Linked DNA regions of Homo sapiens: regions 1 and 3 are each linked to region 2. A link means that fine-mapping ties the variant in region 2 to the expression of a gene that starts in the linked region. Tissue or cell type: whole blood. Region 2 holds a variant in brackets; each other region holds the start of a gene. Each region is shown on its reference strand, or each on the opposite one.

Evidence for each region. PIP is the estimated chance that this variant, and not a neighbour inherited with it, causes the effect. A credible set is the group of variants that fine-mapping cannot tell apart.
Region 1: LINC02915 starts here. The variant in region 2 is fine-mapped to the expression of LINC02915 in whole blood (TOPMed, PIP above 0.99).
Region 3: it holds the start of ATP6V0C, and the variant in region 2 is the best candidate, but not a certain one, in a credible set for the expression of ATP6V0C in whole blood (TOPMed, PIP 0.65).

The regions. Positions count from the first base shown.
Region 1 is chr15:39,248,117-39,253,999 of GRCh38, forward strand. It overlaps LINC02915 (long intergenic non-protein coding RNA 2915), which reads left to right and starts at 2,553. Exons shown (of 2, transcript NR_144508.1): 1 at 2,553-2,747; 2 at 3,943-5,883. The region is part of intron 1 of LOC105370777 (a long non-coding RNA gene); the gene reads right to left.
Region 2 is chr1:247,872,272-247,878,032 of GRCh38, forward strand. It overlaps TRIM58 (tripartite motif containing 58), which reads left to right. Exons shown (of 6, transcript NM_015431.4): 6 at 3,629-5,761. The coding sequence ends at 4,218. Among named protein-coding and RNA genes, the nearest start is that of TRIM58, 18 kb to the left of the region's middle. The variant C/T (reference allele first, on the strand shown) is at 3,878.
Region 3 is chr16:2,510,813-2,516,559 of GRCh38, forward strand. ATP6V0C (ATPase H+ transporting V0 subunit c) reads left to right here and starts at 3,140. Exons shown (of 3, transcript NM_001694.4): 1 at 3,140-3,370. The coding sequence starts at 3,292. RefSeq lists enhancers at 262-865, 1,656-1,950 and silencers at 2,856-3,335, 3,756-3,895.

The DNA.
Region 1 (5,883 bases), not on the chromosome of region 2:
ACCTTTCCTGTTGGATTCAGGTTCAGGGTTGGAACCCACAGACCCAGAATGATAGGCTATCAGCAAAGAAAAGCATGTCATTAGCATCCAGCAGCCCTCAGTTTGTCCTTGTCTCCTTCATCTTCCTTCAAACTTCTATTTTTCTCTTAGATTTCCCTGAAACTCTTTTAAAAATTCCTTTTGAAACAAGTGGGTGCCTGACTCATTGCCTATTTCCTCTGTTTTCCACCCAAGTGGTAAACAATGGGCTCTATTCAAATATGGACCGTCTGTGAGCTGGGAACCTGCGTGCAGACAAAGCTCCTTGTCCCAGGGCAGACTGCCAGACCCATGCTCTCCTCCACTCACCTCCTAGGCTGTTTAATAAGGGCCACTTGGCAAAAGGCAACATATTGTCATGGTCCTGTGACCTTGTAGTTCTCTGTCTCTTTTCCCTTCAGCCCGAAAGAATATTTCTCTAAATTCTCAAGTCAACGCATTTGAGAACAGCCTTTCAAAAGATACTTGTAGGAATAACAGAAGGTAGTTCAGGACCCAGTCAAAAGGACTATCTGGCTTTATTTACAATAATTTTAATGCCTCTGTCCTAACTCCTCCAAAGTTATTAATATTTTGTCTGTAGATGGTGGTTGCCAGGAAAGAGAATCTTGCAAAGTCAAGGGCATGACAAAGCTGAGAAATAGAGAAGGCTAGCCTAAGACTTTGGGAAGAGAAAGGTGAAGGAAAAAAATAGTAGGAATCAGACTATGGAACAAGAAGAACGGGACAAAGTTTCAAGTCCAAAGTGAGCAGGTAAGACAAAAATAACTGAACTTAAATGACAGAGTAGTCTTCAGGGAAAAAAAGAGAGAGAGAGAAGAGACTAGAGAACACATTTGCTTCAAGTGCTTGAGGAAAGCACACCTCCAGTGTGTAGAGGAATCACAGGAGGAGATTTTGCATATGGTGTCCAAACTCCCTTCCCAAGAATTTATGTTTCCTGAAGAACACTGCCAACTTCCCCCCTCCATCTTAAAATGGTAAGAAAGAGAGTTAAAGAGAAGGTAAGGGAAACAAATAAATAATTACGATAATCCAGTTATATTAGATATGTGTGCATTTTAAAATAACTTCAACAACCATATGAAATTGTGGCTCTTGTTCCTGTTTTTTTTACAGATGAGAAAATTGTAGCTTATGGAGTTTAAATAATTTGCTCACAGTCACAGAATTAGCGCTAGAATTTAAAATCAAGTGGTATGACTAAAAAACCATGAGAAAATTCATTCCTTCTTTTACAAAACAAGTCACTCTCTACTGACAATCAAACCCAAGTCCTCTAGATTCTCCATAATATTATTTACATCTATCCTCTTCTATCCAGCCCTACTGTCCCTCCCTCATAGCTTACTAAGTTTTCCCCAAAAGCCTCCTGACCTCCCTTCTCTGTGTCCCCCCATTCTTTTCCTTTCTTCTTTCCTTTTCCTTCCTCTCTCAACATGTATCTCATCAATTCCAACCTGCTTAAAACCCTTCAGTGACTTCCCACTGACCTAAGATTAAGTCATTGCTCTCAAATATGGCACTGCTTACCCATTGTTCTGCATATTATATTCTCTCTCCATCACTTTCTATGTTCCAACCACATTGGACTTCTTTAATATCCTCAAAACTACAAGTCGTATACCAGGGAAGGGCTTTTACACAGGCTGTTTATTCACTGTGGAACACTCCCTCCTCCTCTTCTCTTAGCTCAGCCATTCGCAAACTTTTGGGGCTCGGCCCCTTTGTGCTCTCAAATCTTCTGAAGAACCCCAAAGACCTTTTCATTTTAAAAAAGGTAGATTATATCATTATATCATGTTGCAAATTAGAACCAATTCTTTTTTAAATATTTAATTCATTTTAAAACAACATAGTAAACTGATTATACCTTAACATAAATAACATTTTATGAAAACATAGCCACGTTTTCCAAAACCAAAAATACATGAGTGAGACTAGTAGTGCTGTTATGCATTTTTTGCAAATCTTACCAATATCTGGCTTACTAAAGGATAAATGGATTCTCATGTCTGCTTCTGCATTCAATCTGTTGTGAAATCTATGTTATGCAGCTTCTGTAAAACTCCATTGTACACTTGTAATGCAATAAGAATGAAAAGGCAAATGACTTCTTAGTATTATAGGAAAACAGTCTTAACTCCTCCCTAAAAGTGTCTTAGGCAGAGACATCCAGGAAACCCAAGGTATACATTAGGAACTCTTAATTATCCTTAATATCTTGTCTTAAAGTTAAAATTTGCAAAGATGTCTTTCCTGACCTCAAAGAATAGGTCTGAGTCCTCTTGTTATATGTTTCTATAACATTCTTACCTCTCTGTCAAAACACTCACCGTACCTATAATTTATTCAATAATTTGCATAAGGACAGGGACCATACCAACTTTGTTCATAGTGAGTCTCCAGTGCTCAGCACACAGCAAGGACTCAGAAAATCTTTGTGGGAGGAAGCAGGAAATAGAAGGGGGAGAGCAAGGAAGTAAGGCCTCAGACTCAATGACACAGCTCCCTGACAATCGCTCCATTCCTTCAGCAGGATGTACACAGAGATATAACTTTCTACAGCATCCACTGCAGCTCTGGGCTCCATTTCCCTTTGAAATGGGATGGGAGAAAGGGGCAGGTAACAGACTGGAGTGAGGAGACTGAGGAGAAACTGTAGAGAATAATACTTAGGAGTACACGTGCTGGATTCTCTCATTAAGGTAATCATTCAATATTTACTAAGCAGCTACAATTTGCCAGGCATTCTTCTGGGCACTTGGGACACATCAGTGAACAAAATAGAGAAAAGTTTCTGGCCTCAAGCGATTTACAGGCAGACCTGAACTCAACCACACATCCCTCCACTTGAGTTGGCCTGGATTGTTTGTTTAATCTTCTTGTGCCTTATTTCTCTCATCAGTAAAATGTGAACAAGCCTTGAGAGTTTCCAGGTGAGAACTAAATGAAAGAATATCTTTAATGTACCCAATAGAATCAGGCACCTGGTAGGTGCCTAATAAATGGAAATCTTTCTGCTGGCAACTCTTATTCCAAAATTGATTTTTTTTTCATGTACAGAAACTATTCGATAGATTAGAATCCAGTCACTCACAGGATATCACTTGGGTAGTTGTCGGGGAGGGGGAGTGGTGTATTTAGGGTCTTCTCAGGATTCGGGGGGCTGGCTGCAGTGTCATTTTCCTATAGAGAAGCATCACCTCTGGCTTCCTCTCTTCTTCACAAGCCACCTGGATATGTTTACATTGAACTATGCAAGGTACTATTGTAGTCTTAAGCTATGCAGTATTTCAAAACAGACTTTCCTGAGGACTCTTACAAAAATAATTATGCCACGAGTGTCAGACTATTTGAAAGAAGATATTCATAGCCAACTGTTTGTAAGGGACCACCTCCTTACATGGGTTTATTGTGTATCATAGGGTTGCTGGGGTTTTCCAACTTCACCCTCTGAGTGTGGGTTGGCCTTTCTGAGAAAGCTACACTGCCTTTGAAGTAGGACTACCAGGAGAGAGGGGGGAAAAAAAAGTGTAGGGCTCTTTGACTTTTCATTTCCCTTTCTATCTACTTACTCTTTGTGCCTTCTCCAGTTAGTACCACACTAGAGAAGTGTTAGGTAGAGGAAGAGGAAGAAAGAAAAAAGGACAATCTTATCAGTTGATTTTGCTATGTGTTACCAGTCTGGTAAAAACATTTGAAGTTAGAAAGTATTCAAACATGAATAAAGTTTGGGAATTACTTGTATGGATTTAATTTCCTCAGAATACCCTCATTGTTCCTTCGCAGGAAATATTCATGAGTCAACTATCCAGAATCATAGTTATTATTCAAGCGGTGTGGGTTTAAAAGGAGATTTGATGCCATGGCAAACCTCACTGACTTAGACTGTTCTTCAAGTTAAAGAGCAGGATGATGTCTGAAGTGGCTGAAACACATATGGCTTCAGTGTGTCAAGAAGACCTGAAAGATCCCACATGGAAGTGAAATTCATTACTGGCAAGCACGGTGGCAGGAGACCCCAGAGGGCTGAGCCGCAAAGAATTTGCAGAGCCTTATGGCTAACTCCATGGCCTAGTTTGATCTTGAAGTTACTGTCTTGGATAATCCTCTCAAATCTGTTCCTGCACTTAAGAGCCACTCATCACATGACGGAGCTCCCTCTCAGGTTCCTTTACATCGCCCTGTCAGAAATGACTTTCAGGGAACAGACATCACATCAAATCATCCAACAGATGTCCCTTTCAAATAAGTTGGAGCAGAACCAACTATATGGAGAAGTCATAAACAAAGAAACAGACAACCCAGTGATTTCCAGCGGATTGACATTACTCTTTGCACAGAAACCTCAGTCTCCTGGGTGGAAGAACATGAGTTCAACAAAGCGTGTGTGCACTATATTGGCTGACTCTTGCCGTGCTCAGGCTCATGCTGCTGACAGGGGAGAGAGGGGACATTTTGGAGTCCAAATCTTGCATCATTTCATTGAAGTGTTCAATGTCATGGCTGTAAGAAGTAACCCATTTTAATAACTGGCATCAAAGGATTTAGGAGAGAGAAACCCAGTATCCAGACCCATTTCCGTCAGTGACACTCTCCTCGTATTGGGAGGATTGGCCAGAATCGTCTGATTCCTGTTTCTGATTTCCTTCCTCACTGGCATCAGAGTATTTCACTATAGGAAAACTAATATCTAACTGAGCTCCAAGTGCTAAATAACAGCATCTCATGTTCATTCCGGGTCACCAAGAGGTTCAGGGTGACCAAGTCACAAACTATAAATTTGAACATTTGATGATTTTTGCAGGAGACTGGGTGAACAAAGGAAAACCCGAGAGATACATAAAGGTGGAAACTAGGATTTCTCATTTGAATTATTTAACATGCCTCACTCTAATGGTTATAAATGTAAAGGAAATGCAGGTTCTTCAAGAAGGTGAAACGAAGTTACTGAATTTAAGTTTTTTTTTTTTTAAACCTACTTTAGAATAGGAAACATGCTTACTAATATTTACAAGGCACTACAAGGCACCAGCCAAAAAGCCTGATTTATTGGCAGGATATTCTTGTTGTTGTTGTTTCTATTGTCCATATAGGCAGGCAATTAATACTTTTTAGAAAATTAAGTTGCCAACTCAACACTGCCTACTTTTGAATTTTTATTCTAGCAACAGCCGATAATTTATTGGAAATTCCTTATGTGCTGGGCACTACGCTAGACATTGGGAGTACGAAAATTAATATGGTAAAGATCCTGGCTTTAAAGAGTCTTTAACATTATTTCAGCAGTTTTATTACAGGTGTATATGTTGGAATTGACAGAACACTTAGCTCAAAGCAAGGGTTCAAGCATGACTTTGCAGAGTAGATTTCAGCTGAGCTTAAAGGATGTGAGAATAAGTATACACATTTTTTAAATTACCCAGAATGTAGTGCCTACAGAAGTGCTTGAGCCTCAGTTGCTTCTAAGAGTCCAACTTCAGAACTTGTATCTTCTAGATTGAGCTCATTGCTTAATTTCTAGCCAACATAGCCCATCTCTCTCAGCTGAATACTAAGCTCATCAACTTCTCCTTTGATCTAGGTCTTGATTAGAATGTTGAACATGACAAGGCTGAAGGCAGAAACCATAGAAACTTCTATCCAGAGTTACACTCGTCTCTTAATAGCTGCCTACTGTTGCAATCAGAATAAACTCACTTCTTGCCCAATTATGACAGTTCATTCACCTTCTACTCAAGGGAGACTTTAAGAATTGTTGAAGTTGAACTTCTCAGGTTCTTATACTTAGTGACACTGTTCATGCAATGGCTCAGTATTTCTTGATTTCTCAGAACCAGC
Region 2 (5,761 bases):
GAAAAGCAGTTAAGGGTCTTTGCAGTAATTTGATGAGAGATGATTATGTGTTGGAATAGATGTTATTACGGAAGGTGCCGCAAGATGGACAGATTTTTGTTATATACTGAAGGCAGAGCTGTTAAGATTTGCTGTTGGATTATATATGATGTGCTATAAACAGGAAGAGCCATGAATGATTCCAAGGTTTTGGATCTTGCGAACTGGCAAAATGTGATTGCCACTTATATTGATGAGGAAAGCGACAGTTGAAGCAGAAGAAGGGCACAGGGTTTTGGATATGTGGATGTTGCGATGAGTGCTAAATATTCAAATGTTGCTATCAAGTGGGCAGATGAATGTACAATAGGGAGTTTCAGGGTAAAGTTCAAAGCTAAGCACATGCATTGGGAATCAGTCAGCATATGAATGGAATTTTATCAAAGCAATGAACCAGCCAGCACCCGGGTAGATAGGGAGTGAGGTGAGAGAGAGAGAAGAAGTCCAAGTCTTGGGACTATAGGTTTCTCCAGTGGTGGTGGTGGAGGAGAAGAGAACAGCAAAGAGGATCAAGGAGTAGTGAGCAGTGAGGGAAGGGAAACATGGATGAGTGTTACCTTTGGAAAAGGGAGATTTTCCAGCACAAGTAGATTCTCAGTGTTGAGAGATACAGAAAAATCATTGAAGATGAACTCTGGGCCGGGCGCGGTGGCTCACGCCTGTAAATCCCTGCACTTTGGGAGGCCGAGGCGGGCAGATCACCTGAGGTCAGGAGTTCGAGACCAGCCTGATCAACCTGAGGAAACCTTGTCTCTACTAAAAATACAAAATTAGCCAGGCGTGGTGGTGCATGCCTGTAATCCCAGCTACTCGGGAGGCTGAGGCAGGAGAATCACTTGAACCCGGGAGATGGGGGTTGCAGTAAGCCAAGATCATGCCATTGAACTCCAGCCTGGGCAACAAGAGCAAAACTCCATCTTAAAAAAAAGACAAACTGACAAGTAACCATTCATCAACACGGAGGTCCCTGGGAAGATGGACATGCGCAGTTTGGTTGGGGTATGGTCACATCATGATGAAGAATTGAGTTTAGGAGAGAAGGGGTAGGGAGAGGAATGGGATACAGACCATATCAAAAGCCATTTCACAGATCTCTTTTGTTAGAAATGAAGCAGACCACTGTGCCGGAAGAGGAATGGCTTGGGAATACATGACCTGTTAGATTGTGTTAAATGCACAATCCATGGAGACCTACCTTTCAATCTCTGTTATTTACCTCTAGAGTTTGGGAAGACCACATAAACTCTTTGACTCTGAATCTACTCTTGTGTAATGTAGGGATGACAATGGTGACCCTCAGGGTGGTTACATAATAAAAATAATGCAATGCGCAGTTACGTGACCACTCAGGTTGGGTATCAATAAAAATTCACTAGACCGGGCGTGGCAGCTCACGCCTGTAATCCCAACATTTTGGGAGGCTGAGGCGGATGGATTGCTTGAACCCAGGAGTTCGAGACCAGCCTGGGCAACATGGCAAAACCCCTTCTCTACAAAAAAATACAGAAAACTAGCTGGGCATGGTGGTGTGTGCCTTCCCAGCTACTCAGAGGGCTGAGGTCAGGGGATGGCTTGAGTCTGAGAGGTGGAGGCTGCAGTGAGCTGTGATTGCACCACTGCACTCCAGACTGGGCAACAGAGCGAGACTCCGTTTCAAAAAAAAAAGTAGTTCACTGTAAGTGTTTAAAGGCAAATAAGTATAGTGGTAGTGGTAGTAGCAGTAGCAGTAGCAGTAGCAGTAGAAACAGTATTTGTTCTGATATTAAAAATCAAACTATATTAACATGTTAGTCTGATTTTGCATTGCTATAAAGAAATACCTGAGGCTGGGTAATTTATTAATATAAGGAAATATGCTTTATTTTGGCTCATGGTTCTGTAGGCTGTACAGGAGTCATGGTGCTGGCACCTGTTTCTGGTGAGGCCTCAGGACACCTACAGTCATGGTGGAAAGCAAAGGAGGAGCCAGCGTATCACATGGCAAGAGGGAAGCAGTGAAGTGGGGAGGCCCCAGGTTCCTCTTAAACGACCAGCTCTTGCATGAACGGATAAAGAACTCACTTATCACCAGTGGGATGGCACTAAGTCATTCATGGGGGATCTGCACCCATGATCCAGCACCCCCCACTAGGCCCCACCTTCAACATTGGGAATCACATTTCAACATGAGACCGGGAGGCGATACACATCCAAACCATATTATTTATTAACTTACTACTTATAAGCAATGCTAATAAGGAAATGCACTGAATATTTTACATCCCCCCTTCACTGAGGTTTCATATCTAGATGTATTTATTTATTATGTATATGGGTCAAATGTCTCATCAATCTCACTGGGACTTCAGAGTATCAGTATTTTTTATTGTTATATAACGCATAACTACAAGCTTATGTGCTTAAAGCCATACCATTTAGTAGCTCATGGTTCTGAAGACCAGACATCCAAGTGGGATCAGCTGGCTCCTCTGCTTAGGTTTTCTCAAGGCCCAAATATGGGTGTTGGCCAGGCCAGGCCAGGCTTCTGTGTAGGTCGGGGGAAGAACCTTACCTCCAACCTTATTCAGGTTGTTGGCATAATACAATTCTGTGCAAATGCGGTACTGAGATTCCTGTTTTCTTGCTGGCTGTTGGTTGGGGGCTATTCTCAGCTCTGGAGATCACTCTCAGCTCTAGAGGTCACTCGTTTGTCTCTTCATGTGACCTTTCCATTTTCAAAGCCAGCAAAGAGATATCAAATCCACATCTTATTGACCTTTCCTGCTGCCACCAACCCAATAGCCAGAGAAAACTTTCTGATTTTACAGGACTTGTGGGATTTGATTAGACGCACCTTGATAATCTCTCTCTTGTCATATAGTGTAACATACTCATGAGGCTAACACCAGGGTGTGAAGGTCATGGGGTCCATCTTAGAATTCCGCCTACCACAGTAATATAACTTTGGAAGTAGTGGATTTAATATTAATAAAATTCTATAGATTTTTAAGAAAAAAATTCCTAAGGGGTTTATAAATTTTATGTTAAATGCAGAAGATCCTCCTAAGTGCACTCAAATGCTTTGGATGTAAGCCAGACATGGTGGTGTGCACCTGTAGTCCCAGCTGCTGGGGAGGCAGACACGGGAGGATTGCTTGAGTCCAGGAGTTTGAGGCTGTAGTGTACCACGGCTATGCCCATGAATAGCTCTGCACTCCAGCCTGGGCAACATAGCAAGACCCCGTCTCTCTGTCTCTCTCTCTCTCTCTCACGCACACACACACACACAAATGCTTTAGATGTAAATGAAAGGAAACTAAATGATAATTCACTTGGTTTGTCGTCATCAATAGTTGTTTTTTTTTGGGAAAGTTAAAGAGTTCTGGGTTACGCAGAGGTAACAGTGGAATATACCAGAAAGTTATAAAGAATAAGAATAATAAAGTAATAAAGAAGATTTCACCTGTAAGGTGAAATACTGATTTGTTTTCTCTAGGAGTTAATAGAGAGAGAAAAGTGAGGAACTGTGGGACTATTCTTTTCAGTGGTTTCCTAAGTTTCTACCAGTCCTTTCTTTCCTTTCACCTGGTCCACCACATTCTTTCCGCAGTGGATGTAAAGCTGGATCCCGCCACGGCGCACCCGAGTCTGCTCTTGACCGCCGACCTGCGCAGTGTGCAGGATGGAGAACCATGGAGGGATGTCCCCAACAACCCTGAGCGATTTGACACATGGCCCTGCATCCTGGGTTTGCAGAGCTTCTCATCAGGGAGGCATTACTGGGAGGTTCTGGTGGGAGAAGGAGCAGAGTGGGGTTTAGGGGTCTGTCAAGACACACTGCCAAGAAAGGGGGAAACCA[C/T]GCCATCTCCTGAGAATGGGGTCTGGGCCCTGTGGCTGCTGAAAGGGAATGAGTACATGGTCCTTGCCTCCCCATCAGTGCCTCTTCTCCAACTGGAAAGTCCTCGCTGCATTGGGATTTTCTTGGACTATGAAGCCGGTGAAATTTCATTCTACAATGTCACAGATGGATCTTATATCTACACATTCAACCAACTCTTCTCTGGTCTTCTTCGGCCTTACTTTTTCATCTGTGATGCAACTCCTCTTATCTTGCCACCCACAACAATAGCAGGGTCAGGAAATTGGGCATCCAGGGATCATTTAGATCCTGCTTCTGATGTAAGAGATGATCATCTCTAAAATTCTGTTCCCAAGATGCAGTCCTAGCGTAGCGAACGTTCCTGGAGTGGGGTGAAGGATATCAATATACTAAGTTTTAACAGATACCCCATTTAGGTCAGCACTTGATTCGTTGTTGCTGTGAAATATGTCCATGGGACAAAAGAGGGAATATGAAATATTTGCATATGGGAAGATTATAGAGCATAATAATTTTGTAAATGGAGCAATCTCAACCTCTATTTCTAGATCACATTTTCTTGATGTCTTCCTTCAAATTAATGACCTTGGATTACATAAGGATTTCTATGCATTCATTATAATTTGTTATTCCTTTCAATATCCTTGTATTTCAAATCTTCCATATAAGAATTAGACATGGCAATTCTTAAATTGATTCAGAATGGTCTGATACTATTCCAGTATCACCTCCTTAATTCTGTTTCTCCTCGTTTTCCTGATTTTCCTTCTCATTCTCTCCTTCCCCGCTCTGTCTCTCTCTCCCTGTCACTCTCTCTCTCTTGTTCCTTATTTTTTGTTTCTTACCTCTTACTGTTTAACCTGTTGCTTCCTTCTGGATTAATACATTTAGAGCCATTCCTTTATATGGTCACATTTCCTATGACTTTACTCAATTACTTTTAAAATCCTTTCTATTCTGAGACTAATTTTTAAGAATTACAAAGCTCATTCTTCTGAATCTAATATCACTAACTCCTAGACTTTTTCCGTTTTCTTTGGATACACTTTAAGTAGGAATTTATCAGAATTTTCATTCAACTCGTTCTTTAATGCAGATATTTACTAGTTATAAGACCTTAAGGCTGGGTGCAGTGGCTCACGCCTGTAATCCCAGCACTTTGGGAGGCTGAGGCGGGTGGATCACAAGCTCAGGAGTTCAAGACCAGCCTGGCCAACATGGTGAAACCCTGTCTCTACTAAAAAAAAAAAAAAAATAGAAAAATTAGCTGGGCATGGTGGCAGGAGCCTGTAATCCCAGCTATTCTGGAGGTGGAGACAGGAGAATTGCTTGAACCCTGGAGGCGGAGGTTGCAGTGAGCCAATATCTCACCACTGTACTCCAGCCCAGTGCGAGACTCCATCTCAAAAAAGAAAAAAGACCTCAAACAACACTTCTCTCTCTCTTTTAGCTGCTTGTTATGGTTCCTATACATGGAACAATTATACTGGCCTCACTGTGTTATGGTAAATATTTAAGGTCATATTTGATATTGCTGGTTTGAATTCAGCTTTTCCATTTAAATACATTATAATGATGATGATGAAATCATGATAATATTTAACTTATTTTTAAAGTATATTCTGTACCTTTCCAACAAAAAGGTTAAAAGTCATTGAAGGCTAACCTTACTGCCTTCTTTGTATCACTGTCTTCTAAATAATTATTATGTCTGGGTACAGTGGCTCACGCCTGTAATCCCAGCACTTTGGGAGGCCGAGGTGGGCAGATCACGAGGTCAGGAGATTGAGACCATCCTGGCTAACACAGTGAAACCCCGTCTCTACTAAAAATACAAAAAGAAATTAGCTGGGCGTGGTGGTG
Region 3 (5,747 bases), not on the chromosome of region 2:
GGTTGCAGTGAGCCAAGATCGCGCCACTGCACTCCAGCCTGGGTGACAGAGTGAGACGCCATCTCAAAAAAAAAAAAAAAAAAATCACAGAGTGTGAGGGGAGCATCCAGAGAGGCCTGAAGGGGGTGTCTGAGGAGGAAGAAGGAGGGGAAGGAAAGTGGGGGCTTCCTGGAGGAGGTGGTGTTCTAAATACTGAGACCCATTTCTTTTTTTTTTTTTTTGAGACAGAGTCTCACTCTGTCGCCCAGGCTGGAATGCAGTGAGGCTGTCTCAGCTCACTGCAACCTCCGCCTCCCGGGTTCAAGCGATTCTCCTGCCTCAGCCTCTGCAGTAGCTGGGATTACAGGTGTGTGCCACCACGCCCAGCTAATTTTTTGTATTTTTAGTAGAGACAGGGTTTAACTGTGTTAGCCAGGAGGTCTCCATCTCCTGACTCGTGATCCACCCGCCTCGGCCTCCCAAAATGTTGGGATTATAGGCACCCCGCCAACTGAGGTGCATTTCTTAAGTAGGGAGTGAGGAAGAGAGTTGGTGCAGACACAGGTGATGCAGACACGTTGGGGGGCTGGTGATGAGAAGCGGGAGGGGACCAGGGAGGGCTCTTGAGGGGCCGAAGGATTCCAGGATGGAAAGTGCCCTTTGGAAAGAACCTGTGGCTTTAAGGTGAAGACTCGGTTGATTGGGGGTAGGCGATGAGAAGACCTAGGCCAGGCAGCGGCAGGGGCAGGGGCGCGGGCGCGGACACAAGCTGGGGAGGCAGGATCTCGGGATCCTGAGTAATACAGAGTGGGGAGGGAGCAGTGGCGTGACGTCAGGCTGCGGGGGGATGGGCGTGCCTTCTGCGGGAATGGAAATAGCCCAGTGGAAGGTGGTGGTGAAGGGGTGGGGGCGAGCTCAGCTTCAGACACGCCAGCTTGAAGTGTCAGGAGCCACACTGGAGACCCGGTGTGACCTCTCACACTAGAACTTAGGCAGAAAATGAATGGGTAAGAGGCCAGTGAGCACAGCTGACCCACTCCCTGCTCCTGCAAGAGGGAAGTCTCTCCACGTCCCCATGTCCCCAGTCCTGGTGTTTCAGCCACAATGGAGTTAGGTGCTCTTTGCCCACCCTACAATGTTTTGTTTGAGACGAGGTCTCACTTTGTTGCCCAGGCTGGTCTTAAACTCCTGGGATCAAGCAATCCTCCTGCCTCGGCCTCCCACAGTGCTGGGATTACAGGCGGGAGCCACCGTGCCCAGCCCACCCCTGAGCTTGGACTGTGCTGTTTCTCCATGGTGGGCTGCTCTGCGCCACCTTTCCTTGGTCTGAATTCGGCCCCAGGCACAGCCTTCCTGGCCTAGGCTTTCCTGGAGGGCTTGGAGTTATGGGGGCAGGCACTGGTGTTGCTCTCACTCAGAGGGCGGTCGGGGCTGGAATGGTGCAGGTGAGGGACAAGACGGCGTAAGATGGGGGACAAAGCCAGGGAAAGGATGGGATCAAGCAGGGGAAGGGCAGAGCTAGGGGTAGCCCTGGGTATGCCAGGACCTGCAGCAAAATTGGGGCTACAGGGCCTTGTGACTCCAGGAAGAATGAGGGCGTCTGAGATTTAGGAAGTCCGCAGGAGAGAGGAGAGTGTGTGGAGAGGGTGGCAGGCCACGCAGCACAGAGGTCCACTTGGACAGCCTGACAGATGTCCTTCTGCTTAGAGAAATGGCGGTCACCAGTGACCTTGGCAAGGGCAAGGAGCTGGAGAGGGAAGGGCAGGTGAGGAGGTGGAGACAGAGTGAAGATTCGTCTTCTCAGAAACAAGGGCCGGGCAAGAAAGAGGGAGGAGCAGAAAGGGCCTCTGGCCGTATCTGTTGCCTCCTCTCCTTTGAACCAGGACAGACTTAGGGACTTTCACGGGCTGCAAGTTCCAAGAGTGGCAGACCCAGGCTAGCCTGGGGAAGGGGCTTGAGGGAGGCTCCTGCTGGGGAAGGTGGGGCTGAGTCCAGCAGGAGGGCCAGACCAGGGGCCATGACCCCATTGCCTACATAGAGAAGGTGATGAGCCAGCATCCAGGCTACTCAGGGAGAGCTCTAACCCAGGATGAGGCCTTAGAGCTCAAAGGACACTCAGGCCTGGTGGCAGCTGCCCAGGGCCCCTGAAAGGGGGAATGGAGATCAGGCAGAGGGGGTGCCAGGGACTGCCACACAGGATCAGTAGGGCAGCGCCAGCCCTGGCTGGGCTGCTTTCACGGCTGCGGGAACCGCTCCAACTGCTCCAGAAAGACAGAAAGATGGCCCTGAAGGTGCAGGCTTTGCGTGAGTGGGTGGCTGCAAGGACAGGTGGGAGGACCAGGACGCCAGAACGTGCAGAGCCCGGGGGGCCTCCAGAGGTCGCAGTTCCGACAGGGCTTCCACCAGTCATGCCTACATCTTGAGGGGCAGAGACACACCCCACTAATGTTTGGGTCCCTGATGCAAAGGCAGAGACAGGTGCGGGGAGGGGGTCCTTTTTCTCCGAAGCGAGAGGTGAAGTCACCAACTGCTGGGTCAGAGGCAGTAGGTCTGGGTCTGGAGGAGACTGGGGACAGGGTGGAGGGAGGTGACCGCAGCCACGGGCTGGGACTTCACAGGTGTGGGCTGGGGGCTTTTCCGGACGCTGTGGCAGAGGAGGCCCGCGCGCCGCACATCTGCTGGGACCCTTAGCTCGCCCAGGATTGGTAGGGAGATCCTGGAAGACCAGCGCCCGGAGGGGTGAGGCCCCGTCTTGGGGGCAAGGCCGCGAAACCACGGCCTGCAGCTTCACGCCAGGGGTACAAAGAAAAGCGTCGCCGGGAACCCAACACCTGCAGACGACGCGCAGCCGCAGAGGAGGCGGGGCGTCCGAGGCCCCGCCCCGTATGCTAATGAAGCACACACCACACCGCCCCGCCCCGGCGCGAGACCGGTCCAACGCTGCGGAGATCCAGAGGCCGGCGGCGCCCGGAAACACCCGCGGAGGCCGAGGCAGGGCGGGGCCGGGCGCCGGGGCCGGGTCGCTGGGCGGGCGGCACAGCCCGGGGGAGGTCAACGGGCCGGCCGGGCGTCCCGGGGACGCGTCTCCCCCACGGTGCGAAGTGGTACGGCTCGCAGGGGCGGGGCCCAGGTCATGTGACGCGGCCGCGGCCGCCATTTTGTTCTGCGGTGCTGGTATTTAGAGCGCAGCGGCTGACGGGCCGGATCGCCTTCGCCGCCGCCCGCCCGCAAACCTTCGTGCCCGGCCCGTCCTCGCCCCCGCCTCCGCCACCGCCTCGGCCCGCAGAGCTTGCCCCCTCCCCACCCGCAGACATGTCCGAGTCCAAGAGCGGCCCCGAGTATGCTTCGTTTTTCGCCGTCATGGGCGCCTCGGCCGCCATGGTCTTCAGCGGTGAGCGCGGCGGCGGGAGGGACTCGGGGGCGGGGGCGCGCGCGTTGCTCATGCCCGCAGCTCGCCGGGGTCCGGTGTGTGACGTCACTCTGACGTAATCCCGAGCTGTCGGGGGCGCCCGGGCCTCGTGTGACAGCGGGCGGGGGTCGGCGCCCCGAGGGCTGCGGGGAGCCGCCGGGGGTCCGGGGCGCAGGGCGTGCGGGCCTGGCCGGGGTGTGAGTCTCGGGGGTCCGGGCCGGCGGCCCTGCCAGCCGGGTCGTGCGGTTGCGGGGGTGGGGCGGCGGCGCCGCTGCCATATTAGCCCCGGGAGCGGCGAGAGGGAGGCTGGGGTGGGGGCGCGAGGGGGGCGGCGCGAGGGGGGCCGATTCTGCGGGCAGGTGACATCACACCTCGAAGGCCCCAGTGCGCGGGCGGCGGCGCGGGTCCGGCCCAGGAACGCCCAGCCGGTCGCTGGAGCTTTCCGGCTGGTGGGGAGCCCATGTCCCCCACGGGAGGTCCTCAGCCCTCGCCCTTATGGCGGCCGGCCCCGAGGGTCAGGTGGGTCTCACCCACAGGCAGGTACTTCCGGTTGGAGCTGGTTACAGTTGCCCAATACCCGTGTCGCTGTGTGGGCTGTTTGGGAAAGCTGGGCTGAGGGCTTGGTTCGGAGAGCCCGCGGAGACCCGGGTGGGAGTGTGTGGAAGTGGAGGGAGCGGGGAGACAGCAGCATCGGCGCTGGCGGGGCTGTGTAGCTTGCAGAGGGTCTGTGCTCTGAGGTGGGTGAGAGGGTGGCATGGGTGTCCGAGTTTATGGGATCCAGTCGTTGCCCTCAGGACTGAGGCTTCCAGTTGTGGTCCTAATGAATGGAGGGGTGAATGAATGACCTTCCTTTCCCTCCCTGAGGCCTGAAGTTGGGAGGGGCTTCCCTGGGCTTGGAGAAGGGGCCTTCTAGGGTTCTTGGTGGCACCCTGCTTTTGAAATTGGGCCTTGACAGGTCCTGGGCGTCCAATTTAGTGACAATTGGTCTCCCTGGGAGAATGGCACTTGGGCTAGGGCTAGGCCCAGGAATGTGGGTCCGACGAGTTAAGTTCTGGCCCAGTCTCAGCCTCCGTGGACTGGCCTGGCCTGGTCTGATTTCCGCCTCCGTGGTTAGGTCTGGTTTTAGCTTTGATGACCGTGCCCTGCCCCACCCTGCCTGGTGGCCTGGGGAGGCTCCTAGTGCAGATATGTGGAGGGTTTGAACTCCAAACAGTCTCTGCTGACTGTAAACACCTGTGGGGTGGGGGCTTGGAGCTCTCTGTTCTCTTGCGGGCCTCCTTCTGCCTGGGCCTGTCTGCCATTCGTGAGTGAGCCCTGGCCTTCCCGTCGTGTGCAAGTAAGGGGTCATTTGTGGTGGAAGAAGTGGTCTAGACTTCTCCTTCCCCCTAGGCACCGCCTGCTCTTTCCACAGACTCAAGGCTTCTCCCAACAGGCTGCCGAGCCCTTCCCCCCAGCCTCCTCTGTTCTTTGCCCTCAGAATGCCTTCAGAGATTCCATTTTGCCTGGCCACCTGTGGGGTATTAGCTTGTGGCTGTCACTCATTCATCCAAACAATCTTGATTGAGCGCTTACTATGTGCCAGGTACTGGTAGGACAGCAGTGAACAAAATGGGATCCCCGCCCATGTGGAACTTAAATTCTAGCTGTTGCTGCTTGCCCTTGAAGCCCTGAGTTTGTCCACCAAGCCCTTTTTCTGCACCCAGCTCCTTTCCTCTCTCTCCGTCAAGACCTACACAGGTCTTTGGGCAGCCTGACCAGCAGGTGTCTGGAAATTGAGAACACGGTATTGCTGGCCTAGGCCTTTCCTGCTTATCCCTGGCTCTTCGGGATAAACGTGGCTTACTGTGGCTCTCCAGGAGCTGACCTCTGACTTCACTTGGCCAATTCAGACAACTGCTTTTTTTTTTTTTTTTTTTTTTCTCCCCTCCTCAAGACAGGGTCTTGCTCTGTTTCCCAGGCTGGAGTGCAGTGGTGTGGTCATGGCTCACTACAGCCTCAACCTCCCAGGCTCAAGCAATCCTCCTGCCTCAGCCTCCTGAATAACTAGGACTACAGGCACAGGCTACCATGCCCAGCTAATTTTTTTTTTTTAGAGACAGGGTCTCGCCATGTGGCTCAGGCTGGTCTCAAACTCCTTGTTGCCTCAAACGATCCACCTGCTTCTGCCTCGTAAAGGGCTGGGATTATAGGCATGAGCCACCATGACTGGCTCAACTTCTGACTTCATTTCTGCCTTCTCAGCATGCTTTCCTCCAGGACCTGGCTTCACCTGCTGTGCCGACCTAAACAAGCCCCCTGCCCTCCAGTGGCCTCTGCTGTTGCCACAACGCCAACCTCCAGCTGTGTCCCCAGCTCCTGG